Homo sapiens: one gene and its partner. The protein of the gene in region 1 interacts with the protein of each later gene in a biochemical or structural test. Each region holds a gene or a part of one and is shown in the gene's direction. Other genes may lie near its edges. The genes, in order: F5 and PROS1.

Region 1 (12,284 bases):
CTTCATCTTCTAAAACTAAAAATGAACACCTTGTGCTTTTTGTCATATAATTTTATTGCTGCCTTATAAATGACTTTCAAAATATCATCAGTTCTTGTATGTTTTTGTACTTTCACCTTTTTTCTGCTTCATATTTGACTTATTTATCCTATTGAATGTGACTCTTCATTTTTTTTTCTCTCTGTTCATCATGTCCTGGGATATGGTTTACCTTGGCTACTTAAAGGCATATGTAACTGAGAGGAGGTTTAATTCAGATAAAATACTATCCTTGAGTTGCAAACTATTTTTTCTAATTGAAATGTTAAAAATAAGACTTCTCAGAAATTAACTAAATCATACAGTCTATTCAATATTTCCAGTTAGTTATTTTTTAAATGGTAAACCTGCTAGTGTGACTCACTTTTTTTCCTTACATCACACTTCATTATGAAAGATGTGTTCCTCTTTTACAATTACAAAACCAAAGTAATCTGCCAAAAAATAATGTAATATTTTGAGATCTTTTAGTGTATAATATTAACCTTTTTAAAACTCTCATTGTAACTGGGTTATTTTGGAGGGTATTACATACCATCTTGGTCTTATAATAAGAAGAGATCCCTCCTTCTCAAAAATAATCATTTTAAATATCGTACTTCAAAGTGATAATCTAGGTCACACCCACACCCTTTGGGAACTGCCGTAAGCTAAAACCCCAAGGAAAATAACAGTCCTTCTAACACTAATCTTGCCTGCTCATGAGTAGAATGCAGACTTGGTTGTTGGCTTTCTTGTAGCATGCTGGGTTCATGCTTGGGAGTTTTTTCTCTTGTCTGTAGTTAGCGTTGAAAATAACAAGCAAAATACCGGAGGCAGAACCAGATAGGGCAAAGGTCTGATTCACATGGTGAGTACACAGGGAACCATGACTGGTCATTCTGTCCCCTCATCCTGTGGGTAAGTTTCCAAAGTTCTGGAGATTCGTTCCTCTGGTAGGAATTGTTGAGTCAAAACCATAGAAACACAACCCAGACAAACTGTCATATTGTTTAACCCTAAATCATATCATTTCTCTCTAGCATTTTCTTATGAAAAATCTAATCCATATATCTGGCTGCTTAAACTAAGAACTTGTTCTAACTTGTCCTGCCCCTAGAGCTATGATACTCACTAGGTGAATATCAACATAGCCAACTCCATCTTTTGGCAAAGTGTATTTTAGCACAAAGCAGACATCTATCTACTTATTTCATATAATATTAGCAGGACAATGCCTTTTAAAGGTAAAATGTATCTATTATTCTTGCTCCAAGTCTAAGGTGAACACTTTCAAAAATTTCCTTAGAAAACTTGTTTAGTCACTCACATGTATACAAAGAGATATTGAAGAAAAGATATACATACATTTTCCTTCTAGGGTTCTAGCTTTATATGATTTTGTGATTATGAACAAATCATCTTTAAACAATCCTTATAAATGAAAAACTCGTCGTACACATTGTTTGAATTCATATGATCTGTAACTTTTTAATCAGATAGATTATTTTCCAATAGAAATTGTTCAGATCAAAATAGACATACCTCAGTATGAATACACAGCATACATAGTAAAAACATGTTAGGAAACATCTCTCTGTTGAAATTACTCCACGTAAGAGACTGATATTTTTTAGTAAAGATTTTACACCATCATCTACATTTCTGTATTAAAGATCTGGGGCAGGGGAGGACAATAACTTTTCAATTGTACTAAAAATAAATAAATAAAAATGGACTTCCACATTAGGGACATTAGTATATAGAATCCTGGAATTCTTAAGTTAGAAGAATGCTAAGAGTTCATTTAATTCATATTCAACTTCCACGCTTTAACCTTCTACTTTTCCCCTTTCCCTCAGCACCAATGACCTTACCAAGTAGTTGTCTAATTTCTACTTGAATGCTTCCAGTGATGGAGAATCCACTACCTTCTCTATCTAGCTATTCTAAAAGTACTTACGTGCCTCCTTTAATTCTGCCCCCACATATTAACACAGTTTCTGTATTCCACATATTACAATTTGTGAGCATTACTGTAACTACAGATTTGTTTTTGCTTTCTGAGAAAACCTGAAGGGTAAAGACTAACTCTTATTACATTTACAAAATAATATTACTAGCTAACATGGATTGAGTATTTCTAGTGTGCCAGCTCTATGCCTTTTGCACATATCAACTTATTTAAAATTATACAACAATTCTGTGAAGGAGATTTCAGTATTAATCTCATTTCATAGTTGTAGAAACTGAGGCACAAATGGATGAAGTAAACTTTTCAAAGTAAAACAATAAGAGGTAGATATAGGCTTCAAGTCCAGAGATACTGAATTCACAGCCTGCACCCTAGCCACCGCGCTGTATAGAAGTCATGGCATATGTGGGTGCTGTTATGTCTTGATTATGGCTGGGCCACTGTCCCCACATTAGGAAGCAAAACAAAGCCACTCTGATCAACTGATTTAGACATTTGCAAGGTATTTTCTCCAAATTCTCTTTCCTTTTACCCTCATCTTTGAGTTTAAGACAAGGATAAGACTGATTTGCCTTTAGAGGTACAGAACAATAACAACAACAGCAAAAACAGGAAAGTAACCCACCACTCACAACTCTCCCTGTTGTCTGTCCTCTCTCTAATTTTATTTAAAATCATGAATGCAGTGGTTTCACATTTTTTAATCTTGGTTCTGCCACTTATCAACTGTATCTCTTGGACAAGTTACTGACTCTTTCCAAAACAGTTTTTTCATTTGTTTGTTTCCAATATGAATCCCAGGGCTTTTACCCCATTAGCCATCTCTCACCTCTCAACTAGAAATAAATTCCACCAAATCAATACTTTTTCACAATGTTCCCCAGTAGATTAAAACTATATTTGATTGATCAGTTGAAAAACAGCTCATATATTTATTCATAAAGGATTTGGTCATATTTTAATCATATAAAATCTAAACCTACAGTTTGGGTTTCTACTGTGATATTGGGTTCTTTTTAGAAAATTGATTCTGAGGAATGATATTAGGGTAGATTAACTTGTGAACAAATAGTTATCACAACAGGATATTTTTGAAGAGACCAATAATTATTTCATTAACTTTACTTATTGATCATATTTATAAAACTGTGGACTTCTGAAATACAATAAAGATACTGGTATTCTACTAGAAGTCTGAAGATATGAGAGATCTACTTTTTTTGTAATGTGAGAAATAGATATTGAATATGCCTTTCAAATTAGTTTTTGTATTTTATTTCCAGTTTGAATCTTTCTGTAACTTCCTTTAAGAAAATTGTCTACAGAGAGTATGAACCATATTTTAAGAAAGAAAAACCACAATCTACCATTTCAGGTAAGCCTGAAATATACTTTTTTAATTTTAAAGATAAATTTCTATGGGTAATTTGGCATTCACATGCATCTAAAATATCCATTTACTGAAAATTTATAGAAACGTGTGGTTTTTTTTTTAAGAAGTACTGGCTACATAATATGTGGGGCCCAGTGCAAAATGAAAATGTGAGTCCCCTTGTTCATATTATTGAAAATTTCACAGTGACTGCAAAGCATTAAACCAAGCCAGGGGCCCTTTGGGGCATGGGGCCCTGTGAAACTGCCCAGGTCACATACCCATGAAGCTGGCTCTGTTTTTAACCTTGATTAAAATAACTAAATAAAACTTATAAGTGTTTGAATTTTTATTCATTCATCTAAAAAACTGTTATTGAGTACCTGGTATGGGCTGGGCATTGAAATAGGCATTGTGGATGCAATAGTGGACAAGACAGTCTCATATCCTGGGTTCATGGAGATTATGGTCTAGTTTAATGAGCATAGATGTGCCTTCGCAAAATGATATTTTGCTTCCATTTGGCTCCCTAGATTCATTCAAAGGAACTATGTATGGCTGACTCTTTTGCATCTCTTTCCCGTCTATTCTTCTGTTTATTTAGTGTGATATATACAATAGCCATAATTTTTAAAGAAAATCTCTTATTTTTTCCTCATCTCTTCCTTTATCAAGAAGACTGGGTTGAATAGGGTTCTAATATCTTAACTATGATACCATATTCCGCAGGGATGATAGAGACCATCAAGGGAGAACTTCCTCCAGTTGAATCCCCTTGTCAGTAATTCACCTGTCCCTTTCCCCAATCAGATGAAGACCTGCTGTCTTTCCCAGAATCATCCTAGTCTGTCCTGCCTCTTCTGATCTCCTTTAATCTTCAATATTTAGTCAATGGGAGTCTTCCTTTCAGTTAAAAATCAACGACTAAACCAAAACCAAATCAAACCATGTCCAGTTAACTCCTATCTAGAAAAAGAAAAAAAAAAATCTCCCCTTGACCCTGCCTGCCTTTTCCTTTTCTCTCCTTTCCTTCACTACCAGTTTTCTGTATGAGAACTCTGTATCATTCTCTACATTTCTTCGCCTATATTCCTTCCCTAATCTGCTTTAGTATGAATAAGTCTACTAAAATTACTCTCACAAAAGGGCACCTAGGACTTGAGGTGCCAGAGCCTATGTTCTTTTACTACTAGACATTACTAGGACATTTAACACTCTTCCTTTCTGAAGCTCTCGCTTTACCTGTTTTTTCTAGTGCCACTTCCCCTTGGTTTTCTCAGACTTCTCTTACCACTCCTGCTCAGTATCCCCACCAGATATTCTTCCCCAGGGTTCGAATCTCACCCAAAACCAAGGCTTTCACTACTACCTACCCAGAAGCCACTTTCCCTCTGAAGCTACATTGACACCCCCTCAATACCAGCAGAATTAAATCTTCCCTCTTCTATACATCCCCAGTACCTTGAATTAATCCCTACCTTCTAAAGATATTAAGAGGATCAATTGAGTTAATAAGTACAAAGTATTTATAATGATGCTGACACATAATAGGCACTCAGTAGAAGTTAGCTACATTATTGTTATTGTTGCTGCTATTACTAATCATAACTTAGATCATATATATCATAGTATTATGGATATCTATATATCTATATTTCTCCACTCATTTATATAGTCTTCACATGTGTTCATTTATATATTTATTTAATTTTAAACAGATCTGCATTTAAATATTCTTTTATTTTTAAATAATTGTGTATTGAGGCCAGGCGTGGTGGCTCATGCACTTTGGGAGGCCAAGGCAGATGGATCACTTGAGGTCAGGAGTTCCAGACCAGCCTGGCCCACATGGTGAAACCCCGCCTCTACTGAAAATACAAAAATTAGTTGTGCATGATGGTACATGCCTGTAGTCCCAGCTACTCAGGAGGCTGAGACATGAGAATCACTTGAACCCAGGAGGTGGAGGCTGCAGTGAGCTGACATCGCATCACTTCACTCCAACCTGGGTGACAGAGCGAAACTCTATCTCAAAAAAAAAAAAACAACAACAACAACAACAAAAAAGTATATTGAGAACCTACTACATTCTAGGCTCTGGGATAAAGTGAATAAGACATGGACCTTGATTTCCAGGAGCCAATCAGCTATTGGGGATAACCTATGGATAGACAAGCAATGACAGTAGAGTAATAAGGAAGAACTATGATGAGGATTCTGTAGTAGGACATAGGAGACCTATCTCCAGTCTGGTGGTCAGGAAAGTATTTCTATTTCTAGATTGATAGCTGAAAAAAGAGTAGGATCTTGGAAAGCCAAGTGGGGAGGCAAGGGGTTGGGTGATAGATGCATTTTAAACCAAGGCACAGAATGTTTAAAAGTTTGGAGGTGAGAGTATGGTATATTTGTGGAACCATAACTGGATCAGCACAGTTGGACCACAAACTTCAGGGAAGGAATTAACAAGAGATGCAACTAGATGGGGATCAGGGATCCATGCTAGGCTTTATATTGAGAGGAATAGGGAGTCCCTAAAAGGATTTCAGCAGGAGAAATATTTGTCCTTTAGAAAGATTATGTTGTCCAATTATAGAGAATAGATTGGAGAAAGACCAGTCCAGAGCCAGAGAAAGTAGTCATGGGACTGTTGTATCAATCCAGATAGCAGAGAAGCTGAGATGGAGTCCAAAGATATTTAGGAGCTAAAGTTGATTAAACTTGGTGACTCATTAGATGCAGATAATGAGGAAGAAAAGGGAATTGTTATGGACTTCAAGGTGTCTGGTTTGAACAGCAGAATGGATAGGGTGCCATTCAGTGAGAAAGAAAATGTAAGAAAAGGAGATAGTTTGTGAGAGAAGGTGATAAGTATAGATTTGGAGTCTGAGGTGTGTATAGAATATCTACCTAGAGATGTTAAGTGAGCAGACGGGTGTAGAAGTTTGGCCCTCAAAAGAGAGATCTGAGCTAGCTGTCAACATTTGGGAGACATCAGAACAAAGATGGCAAATGAAGAATTTAGAGGGTGTGAACTCACCCAGGGAGGATGTGATGAGAAGAGAAGGCTGCAGACAGAGCTCAAAGTAGCAGCAAAGTCCAAGGGATGAGCCAAGAAAGAAAAGTTTACCAAGGAGCTTGAGAAAGCCTGTTCAGGGAGGGGAGAAGAAATCTAGAGAATGTGTTATCCTGGAGGCAAAGGGTCAAATGCTATTAATATAAGGGTCAAAATATGGTCCCTTTGTTATGGAATAGTGGGACAAGACCAGATGGCAGGGTGTTGAGGAGTGAATGGAAGGCGAGGAAACTGAAGCACAAGGGTCTTATAGATAACTCTTCCCTGAAACTTGGTTCCAGATGGGAGGAGAGACAGGGTAGTTTCGGGGGTGGGGGTGGGTACTGAGGAGCTTAAGGACATTTGAGAATTTTATAAAAAGGAATACAGAGACTTAAATATTTAAGGGAAGACTCTATAGAAATGCCATGAAGTCCTTTCCAATAGAAAATGTGGGGATAAAACATCTGAGAGAGAATGATTAATGGAGACTTAGAAGAAGCAGGAAGCATTGGGATTCAAACCTTGGGCTGGCTTGGCCTTAGGTAGAATGGCTACCACCTTCATGGGGGGCCAGGAAAGCAGAGGATAACGTTGCAAATAAAATTAAGTTTGTAGTTATGAGTAGGAAGTTGAAGGATGTCCTGTCCTATATCACAGAGTCTATTCATTTTCATAGCTCCAGCTCCAAGCTTAGCATGTACAATAGATACTTAAGAACTATTTAATTAAATTAAATTGTAGGTAGATGAAGGGAATATAAGGTGGGAAACATACTCATTAGGGCCAGGAAAAGAGGATTGGGGCCGGTATTTGAAGGTGTACCTTTTGTGGCTTTTGCCAAGCTAAGCAAATTTTAATCCCTTTGCTGTGTGAGACATTGTGCTAAATGCCATAAGAGACGGAAAGGACTAATTCCAGGCTGAAGACTTTTAAACAATAAAAAGGCATGGATAGCTTTTGAAGAAAAGGGTTCTGTGATCAAAGTCCTTTCAGATGATTAAATTTTTTAGTGATTTCCTGATTTAACCTTGTTAGAGGTAGACTCTGACAGTTGGTGAGAACAGTCTCCAATTTATGTGTAAGGCCTTTGCACCTTTCTGTCAACCCCTGTGTATCTCAGAATATATTTGTTTCATGTGGACAAAGGTGTTTCGACGTCCATTTTAATGTAATCTCTTCCTGAATGTCCAAAGTTGCTTAACTATGAACTTATGAAGTGCAGGAGTGGTATCTTATTCACCTTTGTAACTCTATAGTAGTTGATACAAGGAGGCAAATCTGGCGTGAAGGAAAAGCCTTTTATTTTGACTGAGAAGATCTGGATTTGAACACTGCCATTAACTATGTGGCCTCTCCCATTCCCCAGACTAGTCCTGTGTTATTTGTACCTTTCCCCTATGTCCTGCTCCACTCATCTGCTGGGTGTGATTCTAGCTGAGCCCTGAAAAAGTCATGAGCCTCACTCCTGCAGCATGAACTATTGTTGTTGTTAGTTCTTGTAATTGTAGGGGGCTGGGCTGTAGGATTGGAGGTATGAAGATGCCCATCCAATAAGGTTTGTGGACATTTGGGCAGGTGAGGGAGTACAGCTGGGGTCATTTTTAGGAATTCTGTCTTGGGCTTTAAAATGGCTAGTCTTGGCTGGGCATAGTGGCTCATGACTGTAATCCCAGCACTTTGGGAGGCCAAGGTGGGAGGATTGCTTGAGGCCAGGAGTTTTAGACCAGCCTGGGCAATGTAGTGAGACTCTGTTTCTATTTAAAAAAATACATACATATATATATATATATATATATATATATATATATATATATATATTTAAATTAGCCAGACATGGTGGTACATACCTGTCATTTCAGCTACTGGGGAGGCTAAGGCAAGAGGGTCATTTAGGACAAGAGCATCACTTGAGCCCAGGAGTTGGAGGCTGCAGTGAGTTATGATCACACCACTGCACTCCAGCCTGGGTGACAAAATAAGACCTCATCTCTAAATAAATAAATAATTAATTAAATTGGCTAGTTTTGAGTCTGCATATTTTTCAGGGACAAATTATAAAATGTTTGTCCCTGAAGGAGTTTTGAAATAGCTGCAACAATCACTACCTTGTGTTATGTAATGCATTGTTCACCTAAGAGCAGGGGATTGGATTAGTTGACCTTCTGCAGTCCTTTCCAGTTCCACAACTGCACTAAATTGGGTACATGCTGTGCTGGCTTCCCCAAGCCCTGAAGTAGGCCACTCCTTTCCCCAATCCAGCTTTGGGCACTGAGGAGAGGGTTAGAAGGGTTTTAGGCCATCTGGCTGTTGGAGGAGCTAAAGAGCAGCTTGAAAACCATTTAGCCATGTGTTTTCCTACATGCGTGAAAGTATTTGGTATGCATTTATGAAAACATCCTTTTGTTTTGCCTTAAATCTGAAGAAGCAGGAGGGGAGGTTGAATAAATACTCCAAACTGTCCACTGAAGTAATAGGTCTTATTAGGTTAAATAACTTAGGAGACTTTCTCTGGGCATCTGGTATTTGCAGGCATGTGATGCCAACAAACAAATCAACCAAGCAAGAGAACCATGGCAACTAAATGCGGCACACAATTGGCAGCATAGTCAGCACCCTGTTGGGCTCATTGGCAGCTGGGGTAGGTGGGAATAGTCAGTGGAAACTTCCATCAGGAGCCAAGACAGAGGGTAGCAGCTGGAAGAGGGGGGTCAGTCAGTGGAGTCCGACATGTCAGGAGTCAAAAGAGGTGTAGACATCTGGACTATTCTATAAAGATGGGGGCCTGAGCCTGCCCCGTGGAAGGAATAGGGAGAGCTTTGGCTCAGGAGTCCAGAGATCTGAGTTCTGATCCCAGCAATGCTACCAGATCACTGACTGACCTTGGGCAAGTCACCTTTGTCCCCCGATTCCTACCTCCCAGGCTTTGTTAACTAAAATAAGGACTGAACTTTGTGACCTCCACAGTCCTGTGTAAAGCTAACATAAAAACAAACAAAAAGCTTCAGGCACAAGATCAGAATAAACTCCAGGAGTAGGAGTTCAAGGAAAGGAATAGGACAACCGTGGGTGGCAAGACAGGGGTAGGGAAAGATAGGACCTCTGTCCCAGAAATCAGAGTTTACCATTGCTTCTGTAACCAGTTACTGCAAACTTAGTGGCTAAAACAACACAAATTTATTCTTTTATGATTATATATCTGCAGATGAGAAGTCCAAAATGGGTTTTATTGGGCTAAAATCAAGGTGTTGGCAGAGCTGCATTCCTTCTGGAGGCTCTGGGGGAGAATTGTTTCCTTGTCTTTTCCAGTTACTGGAAGCTGCCTACACTCACGGGCTCATGGCCCCTTCCTCCATCTTCAAAACCAGCTGAGTAGCATCTTCCAAGCTCTTCCTAACTCAGATTCTCCTGCATCCCTCTGATAAGGACCTTTGTTATTACATGGGATCCACCTGGACAGCCCAGAAGAATCTCATCTCAAGATTCTTAATCATAGATACACAGTCCCTTTTGCCATATAAAGTAGCATATTTCCAGGTCCCAGAGATTAGGACGTGGACATCTCAGCAGGGGCACATTATTCTGCCTACTACACCCACCAAACAAAGCCCTCCCACGGTGTCCTCCATCTCAGAGAATGGCACCCTCCTCCACCCAGCTCCCCAAATCAGAACCTCATCAGCCATCCACAGCAACTGATGTCCTTTATTCTCTACCCCACATCCAATCCATCTTCAAGTTCCAACTATTTTATCTCATAAATACATCACTAATATATTCTCTCCTCATCATCTCATCATAATCTCAGTCACCACCATCTCTCCTGGAGTCTTCTATCTGTTCTCTCAATTGTTCTCTGCTCAGTCTCCTCCGAGATCATCCTCCACAAATACAGCCAGAGATTTTAAAACCAAAATCTGGTCCATGTTGCACCCCTGATGAAAACTCTTTAATGGCTTCCAGATACTCTTAGGCTAAAGGGAAAACTCTATGAGGCTTACAAAGCCCTGCATGATGGGACTCTGAGGATGCCTTCGGCTTCACCTTCTGCCCCTTCCTTTCACATACTAAGCTCCACCTCCCCACTGGATAACTGTCAGTTCTCTAAAAAGGCCACATTTTCTGGCACCTCAGGGCCTTTGCGCACGCTACTCTAACTTTTTAGAATGTCTTTGGCCATCCCTTTTCCTCTCTGCCTTTGGACCTCAGTTAAAGGATTAATTCCTCGGGAAGGGATTCCCCAACTCACCTCCAATTGGACTAGATTCCACTGTCAAATACTCTTCAGAGTATTCCCTCCTTTTCTGTCATAATATTTACCATAGGTTTAAATTGAATGTTTTTGTGATCATTTGTTTAAAATCTGTCTTTCCTACTATAAAAACGTATAAAGTTATAGAACTATAAAAATGTTTGACTTTTATAAACTCTATGAAGGCAGGGAGTGGGTGTATCTATTTTACTCTTTTACGCACCATTGCAATTCTGATGCCTAGGATAATATAGGCACTTGATATTCATTGAATAAATAAAGGAATGAATAAAGGAATGAATACAAGGTGGAGGTGTAGTATAAAGAAGTGGCTTAAAAGTCACGATCTAGAGACAGACATATTAAACTTTAAATCATGATGCTGTGTGATATTAGGCAAGATATTTAAACTCTCTGAGGCTCAGTGTCCTCACCTATAAAATGAGGATCTTAATATCTACCTTAAAAACTTGTGAGGATTAATGTAGGGACTTACAGTGCTTGAATGTATTAAGGGAAACAGTACAGGAAAGCCTTATTATGATTATCATCACCACTGCAAACAAATGCTGGCTGAACTCCATGAGTGCCGTGACTTCCTTCTCCTGCTTCTAGGACGCCTAATGGCGAGAAGCCAATCCCATGACACTTGTGGATGGCTCAGAAATGACAGTAGTTGATTTCTGTCACTTGTCTGGAATGGGGCTTTTGGTCATAGATTCTCAAGATTTCAAAGACATCAAGATCACCAAGGAGCACACGTTAAAGTCCAGATTCCCAAGTTTCACCTCCAGAACTCAGATTCATTGAGGCTGAGGTGATATTTGGAAATCTGCCTCTTATTAAGACCCTAGGTGATTCTGATGCAGAGACTCCAAGGACTACACTTTGGAAATTCTAGTACAGTCATCCCTTGGTATCCACAGGGTATTGGTTCCAGGACTACTCACAGATACCAAAATTTGCAGATGCTCAAGTCCCTTATATAAAATTTCATAGTATTTGCAATAACCTATGCACATCCTCTCATATACTTTAAATCATCTTTAAATTAGTTATAATACTGAATGCAATGTAAATACTATGTAAATTGCTATTATGTTAGAGTTTTATTTGTATTGTTTTTATTGTTTATTTTTTATTGTTGTTTTTTGAATATTTTTGATCCAAAATTGGTTGACTCCATGGATGTGTAACCATGAATATGAACCATGGTCATGGAGGGCTGACTATATACAATTCCTCAAATTCTGACTCAGCCATCAACTTTTTCCCTAACTCCCCAGACAGAATTTGTGCTTCATCCTCTCTTCTTCTGTAATATTTTGCCCATATCTCAGCAGTCGCTCCTATCATACATCTATCTCCAAACTAGCTTGTGAGTTCCTTCAGTACAGGGACTGTATTTGATCCAGGTAGCCAGAAACTTTCTAACACAGTGCCTGGCATGTAGAAAGTAAAACCTCATTCTTGATTTCTGCACCCATAACCTCCTGTCTCTGCTGTGTTCTCCCATTGCAGTAACTAATAACATCATTTACCCAGTTGTTCTGATAAAACACCTTGAGGTCATCCTTGACTTCTGTCTCTCACAAGCCACATGCAATCCATCAGC
Region 2 (7,501 bases), on another chromosome or scaffold:
GTGGCACAGCTGTGTGCAAGAACATCCCAGGAGATTTTGAATGTGAATGCCCCGAAGGCTACAGATATAATCTCAAATCAAAGTCTTGTGAAGGTAGGATGATGGTGGTATCATTACTGATGGTGGAGAGGGTGGGTGTGAACCCTGAACTGATATTTAAAAGCATTGGCTTTGTTTGACATCAACAGTCATATTTTCTTATCCCTAATATAGCTTGTTCAATTGGGTAATCATTGGCTTCCTTCCTTCCAGAGCAAGAGTATGTAAGGCATATGGTCTTTAAGTTTGGTGTTAGGCACGCCAGTTGGCCCTTTGAGCTACCTATGAATTGGAGACCTCCATGTGTGGTAAAAACAAGATAAACATATTTTCACATCATTTATATCATATTCAAAGATAAAGAGAATTTCACTTTGGAAGGAAAAACAGTAGATAGAAAAGAAAGACACAAGCTTAAAAATCATCTTATTGAGACAATGAGCATGGTTAAAACTTTAGTTTTTATTCCAAGCTTTTCAGTGATTTTTCTGTGCATATATAAATAAATCATTTATTCTAAAATAAAAAATGACACAGTTCTATTATCTCATGATAAAGAAATGATAACAATACTCTAGAAATTTAAGAAATACTGATCGGTAATGTCAGAGCCTGTGGGTTTGGGGCAACCCCTTAAAGGTGCTGTTACTTCATGTGACTGCAGTGGCGCTGCCCTGTGTGCATCAGGAAGCTTCAACATATTATAGTTGTTTGTTTGTAGGTTTGTTTATTATGATATACAGATTATCTCATACCTTCCTTTCGATTTTTTAAAATTTTAAAACAGATTTACTGCCATGGCTGGAACTAATCAACACTAATTTTTCTATTGTATCTGTATATATATATGTATGTATGTATATTCACACACATGTATAATGTACCTTTTAAAAAATAGATTTAGGGGCTACAAGTACAGTTTTAATGTACTCTTTTAACCATTTTTAAATGTACAGTTCAGTGGCATTAATTACATTCATGCCATTATGCAGCCATCACTGCTATTTCCAAAACTTTTTCATCAGCCCCAACAGAAACTCTTAAGCAGTAACCATTAAGCAGTGAGTTTTCTTTTATTAGTTACCTTGATGGCGGTAACCTCTAATCTTGTTTTCTGTCTCTATGAAGTTGCCTAAATCAATAATAATTTTACAATATATTTTTTAACTACGTATGCTGCTTTTGAGATTTTGATGTCCTATCATCTCCTTTTGCAATCACCAAAAATATTCCCCTGCCAGCCCCCGCAACACATTTCTCCTTTCTCACCATTGCAGATAGAAATTACCGTGGAAAACTCTAGATGTCTGCGGAATTATCATTAGCCAACTTCATCACTTGTATTGTAGTTTTATTTAATGAATGACATATTTTTTAAAAAGATTTATATATGACTCTTATCTATAACTTTAATAATATGCAATTTTAATACTAAGGATTATTAATTTTGGGAATCTATTTTAAATTATTTTATGAGAACATATTCAATAATAGCATTTATGAGCTTGTGGAGTTTTAAAGGTCATAGGGCATATCCAATGAAAATGTCAATGATCTTATATAACTCTGAGATAGATGTTTGCTTCAACATAATATTATAAATTTCCAAGAATGATTTTCTCAAAATATGGAGTAGGGACAGGGACCATATAGAAGATTTCATAATATGGGAGATTACATCACAGTGAGGTTTTTTAAAAAAAAAAAAACAGATATTTCCCTAAATTCACTGCCAACATTAATTATCGCATTATGAGTGTTCCAATGTTCTTGATATTGTCATTTAATTCCTGATTGTATCAACCTTCAGTTAAAGGGGTCTTTTCTTCCCTTCCCTTCCCTAACTTTCCTTTCCTTTACTTCCCCATCATGCTCTCCCTTCCTCTTTCCCTTCTCATTTCTTTTTTCTTTTTTTCAAAGCAATGAATTGTGAGGTAATCTCAATGAAATTCAAATGATCAGAAATGACAGTTAAGTTGAGATTCTCAATCTTTTTTTTCTTCAAATTCAAAATGAGAAATTTGGTAGAATTGTTATACTTTACTTAATCACTGAAAGTTATAAATTAATTTTTGTTTCAAATATGTAAATAAAAACTATACTTGTAACTCGTTTAAATTTCCATGTTCAGTATTATGTTTAAATGTAGTTTGATGTCATAGTATTTCTTTCCCTAAGGTTCGATTATCATTGATTATATCATACTACAATCATAATATTCCTCTGCCTATAAGATTGAACATTTAGGGGATATTAAAGTTTGTGTGCGTGTGTTTTTTTTACCTCAGATATAGATGAATGCTCTGAGAACATGTGTGCTCAGCTTTGTGTCAATTACCCTGGAGGTTACACTTGCTATTGTGATGGGAAGAAAGGATTCAAACTTGCCCAAGATCAGAAGAGTTGTGAGGTAAACATTTTACAATGCTTAACTTCTCACCTGTTTTCTAAAATGAGAGATCCTAGATACTTATTTTCACATAGCTAAGTCAGGAAAATACAGACGTTCTGCAATAATTGCTGTAGCTTTAAGCAGGTTATGAGTCATGATTATTTACTAATTATGGTCATGTAAGTCATAAACATTGGGGATAATTAGTGGCTGGGTTTAAAAAAAAGAGGGTAGAGTCACAGTTTAGAGAGTACTTATCTGTAGTCTGTACATTTATAAAATACAACTTGTATGTTTACTTAAGAAATCAAGAAAAGCTGAGTTTAATAGCCCTCATTGTGAAAAAAAATCTCTCATAGAAACTTCAGTGAAAACATTTTCCAGTGTCTACTTTTCTGGATTCCACTCTGACTAGTTTGATCATGCCTTAGGCGTTATAGGGTTTATAAAGTGCTCATAAAATTTCAGAGGGTACAAGTGCAGTTTTAATGTACCCTTTTAACCATTTCTAGGATTTAGTGGGGTTTAAGTATATCATAATTCAGAGAGGTTGATTTCTTAATCTGTGTCTCTCAAACTTGCTTTTAATTACTTAGATTTAATGCATAATTGACCCAGGAATTGAATATTGGGGGTAGGTGCTCATTTTTACTTCATTGAAATAAATGTCACCATCTGAGCTCTTTTTTTCCTGCATCTTTTTTTGACAAGTGAAGGTAAAATTATATATTATTATGAGGCAGACCATAAAAAATGCCTAAATAATGATTTAACTAAGTATACATACATACCTCTATAGCTGTTGCCAAAACAAAGCTGTATATGTCCAGAAAAATGTCACATTCAATAATATGCAACCTACTTGGTAATAAGCTAGTTGGCATTTGTTGTAATTTTGGTACGTTACTACTTAATTGAAATGCCATGCTGTGTGAACATCTATTTTGTAATTTAGTCCTTTATTATTTCTGTATTTGGTGTAGTTACATATCACCGTCTGCCTTGAAATAGATTTATTAAAGTTTTAAGGGGAAATAAAATGTTATTTCTGGGCCTATATTTAATATAGTGCTATGTACGTAATTCTCCTCAAAATATCCTCATATGTGTTCAATAATTTGTATGTTAAAAGCTTTTCATTTTAATGTTTGTTTTCACTCGTAGAAAAAAAATACTTGATACCATATGTGATGACTTTAAATAATGTTCTTGTAAATTCCTTGGAGACTATGAGATCTGAATTTATATTTATTTCCTTCATGTTTTCCAGTATTCCCTTTACTATCTAGATAGCACATTCTTGCTCAGAAAACTTTTGCTTAATAAATGAATGAGTGAATGAATGAGGTGCTGTTTATTGGTACATTAATTCTTACACCTATTTCTGACTTCAAATAAAAATAATTTTCAGACATAATTCATGGGAGATAATATACCTGACTGTTAATTAAAGAAATATATATTGGTTCTTGAAGAAAGAGTTTGTGTTTAGGACGAAAATTTGCAAAGGAAGTATTAAAGACAAAGATCGAAAGCCATGCACATTGAACGAGGCTTTAAAACACATGTATTCTTGGAGGTTATACTGATAGATAGACTATACAAGGAAATGGAAGATATGTATTTATTATTACCAAAAATATTCTTAATTATTTTAGTGTATTACAGATGATACATTAGTAACCAAACAAAAATGCATGACCTCACACAAACATTAAGCAATAACCTGTGCATTTTGATTTTCTTGTTGTTTATTTGGTTTCTTTTATTCCAGGTTGTTTCAGTGTGCCTTCCCTTGAACCTTGACACAAAGTATGAATTACTTTACTTGGCGGAGCAGTTTGCAGGGGTTGTTTTATATTTAAAATTTCGTTTGCCAGAAATCAGCAGGTGAGGAACCAATACCAATGATAATTTCTAGAGGTTAAGCAGATAAGGGCAGAAGAAAAGTGGCCGAAAAGGTTTGAAGTGTGTGAAATTGTATTACCTATCAGATAATGTAGTCATATTACCAATCAGATGACTTGGGGAAACCTAAAGTTAATTTACTCCTTCACACATGTAATTTTCATCCTAAAACCTTTTTGAGTCATTCTAGGCTGACTTTCCCCAATGAACATTTTACATTATTCCATATTATTCCTTTTGTAGAAAATGCATATTTACTAAGAAGCTGGGAAAGTAGATTTAATGTACTTGTGAAATTTCCATTATTCTTTACACATGTTATGAAAACCAGGTAATAAAAAATACTCAGTATTGCTTTTAGAATATCATTATATTCAAAATTATTAAGGAAAAAATTTAAACTTGCTTAAGTGGCATTTTAAAGACATATATTACATAATTTTAGTTGGCTGTCTAAATACTTTATCCATTATTATCGTACTTAGATTGAGTTCAGAAATGAAGTAAATGCTTATGTTTTTTAGTCATGATTCCACTTATTTTTATAGCAATGTTTATGATCCAATTTTTATTTTATTATATTTATTTATTTTTGAGACAGAGTCTTGCTTTGTTCCCCAGGCTGGAGTGCAGTGGCGCAATCTCGGCTCACTGCAACCTTCGCCTCCCAGGTCAAGCAATTCTCCTGCTTCAGCCTTCTGAGTAGCTAGGACTACAGGTGTGAGCTGCCACACCCAGCTAATTTTTGTATTTTTAGTAGAGACAGAGTTTTACCACGTTGCCCAGGGTTGTCTCAAACTCCTGACCTCAGGTGATCACCTCAGGTGATCTGCCATAATTGTACTTCAGTTATCAGATTTTCTCAGAAGCATACATTGCTGGAAGTAGAAGAAAGAAATTGGATTTTTTTTGGAATAATGAGAAGGCAAAATACTTGAGACAGATTATACAGTTCAAATTTTAAAATATTTTAATTAAATAAGCATGTATGTTTAGAACTTGATGTTAGATACATGAATGATTATTCATTAAATAATTCAACTAAATTCATAGACGTTATTAAAAACATTGAAAATTATTCTAAGATCAATAACTTACATAAATACTTAAGTAACAGTGCTCCTTCCACACTTTATTTCTGCCAATATGTGGTTTTTTCCTTTAACATCACAGAGCAACTAATATCTTCTAATGATAGAGATTGGAGAAAACTCTTCCCTGCTATGAGAATAATAATGAGAGAAAAATATTAGTTCTAGTAAATAACACTTTTAGGAATACAATTGATCCTCCAAATCCTTGAGTTCCTCATCTGTGGATTTAACCAACCTCGGGTAGATAATATTCAGAAAAAAACACAATGACAATACAATACAAAATAATACAAATGAGACACAATACAGTATGACAACTATTTACATACATTTGCATTGTATTGAGTATTATACATAATGTAGAGACGACTTAAAGTACGTGAGAGGATGTGCATAGGTTATATGCAAATACTATGCCATTCTATATAAGGGACTTGAGCATCTGTGGATATTGATACCATCCAGAGGTCCTGGAGCCAATCTCCAGGAGTTTGTTCATTTCTCACTGACGATTCATAGTAGTTTGATCTCTAACATGGGATCAGAATTGGACAAATTATTTTTTCCAGAATTTATTATTTATTTATTTTAAACTTTTCATTGAAATATAAAGTATGTACCGATATGTACACATTAGATTAAATGTATAGCTTGATGAATTTTTATAAACTGCCCCTTGTGTGATCAACACAAAGAATAGCTAGTGCTTTTATTTATTTTTGCAAATTTCTTGACGTCTGTTGCTCATGATCAAATACTTTCCCTCCGTAAATGTCAACAAATTCATTCTATTTTCCTGTTTACCATGCTTGTGAAAAAGAATGAATTGTTCCCCATTGTAATGAATCAATATGCTGCTGATATATTCCAGAAACAAAATATGCAGAACATGACCCTTTGAAACTATGATTTCAGCCTGATTTTACAAAGAAAAGGAAATTATCTCCATAATAGAATCAACTGCTGGAAGATCCTGAGCATACACAGATTTGGATTTTGGCAAGATAATATTGCTTCACATCAGCAAAATGCTCAGATAATTATGAAAGAGCATAGAAGTCCTTATTCCAAGCAAAATTGTTCTTTTTTTCATAATCTGAGTTCAGTAAATTCCTACTACATTGTTATCCATCCAACATACTTTACTCCACATTTTACCTCTTTTTAAATATTTCTTTGGAATTCTAAAGATGAAAACATTCATTTTGTCACCTTTTCTTTGTTCCATTTGAGGGAGATACGTGCCCCATTGCAAATGGTGCCTCTATTACTATTACTATTTTACTATATTGCGGTAAGAGTGTGGGATTCTGTCCTGCCTAATATAGCAATTATCTGAAGTCCAGACTCTTTAACTTAAATTGCCTTTATTTTAAGTTAGGTGACTAATAGTTATACACCTATTGTTCCTTTTCCCTGTTTGTCTTTCGTCAATCATGTGGATTTGCTAGTCCCTTGGAAACTTCAATGCTGATTCTCATTGAAGTGTTTTAAGGATACTGAATCAACACATGTTATTTTAAGTCCTGCATCCTAAGACTTTTCTCCCCTGTAATAGCTACATATATGTCTAGAGTCTTAATAGCAACAGATGTTGCCAGCACTCAGATACCCCCCAAACACATGGGTAGACTATGTCTTTTAAGTTTTCCTTCTGTGTATTCTACAACAGTGACTTATGCAACTGGAGTTTTAGGAAAGCTAATAGATATATTTTAAGTTTTTAAATTTTACCTTTCTTACCACACATGAAGGCTTAATGATGTCTGCAGTCATCCATGTGCCATCTTGTAGATCTCCACGAGTGATTCCTGACATGTGAAATTATAGGGAAAATATGCCTTTTGATGAATAAACCAACGATGAAATTGTAACACATTTTATGATCACTTATGGATACAGCAAAAACAAAAACAAACAAAAAAGAACAACAACAAAAAAAACTACCACTTCTTAATGTCAGATTATATAGTGTATAAAAGGCTCCAGGAGAGATATAGTATGCCTGATACTTATACCTGTGTATTAATTTCAGCATTTGGAAGGTGCTATCAAAATATATGTCAAA

What was found.
Region 2: the proteins of F5 (region 1) and PROS1 form a complex in vitro, tested with the Homo sapiens proteins (2 studies listed by BioGRID).

What each region holds. Positions count from the first base shown.
Region 1 is NC_000001.11:169,573,515-169,585,798, reverse strand, and holds part of F5 (coagulation factor V preproprotein), read left to right. Parts: intron 1-3,276; coding exon 3,277-3,368; intron 3,369-12,284. UniProt on the Homo sapiens protein: Central regulator of hemostasis. It serves as a critical cofactor for the prothrombinase activity of factor Xa that results in the activation of prothrombin to thrombin.
Region 2 is NC_000003.12:93,893,396-93,900,896, reverse strand, and holds part of PROS1 (vitamin K-dependent protein S isoform 2 preproprotein), read left to right. Parts: coding exon 1-93; intron 94-2,327; coding exon 2,328-2,449; intron 2,450-4,205; coding exon 4,206-4,321; intron 4,322-7,501. UniProt on the Homo sapiens protein: Anticoagulant plasma protein; it is a cofactor to activated protein C in the degradation of coagulation factors Va and VIIIa. It helps to prevent coagulation and stimulating fibrinolysis.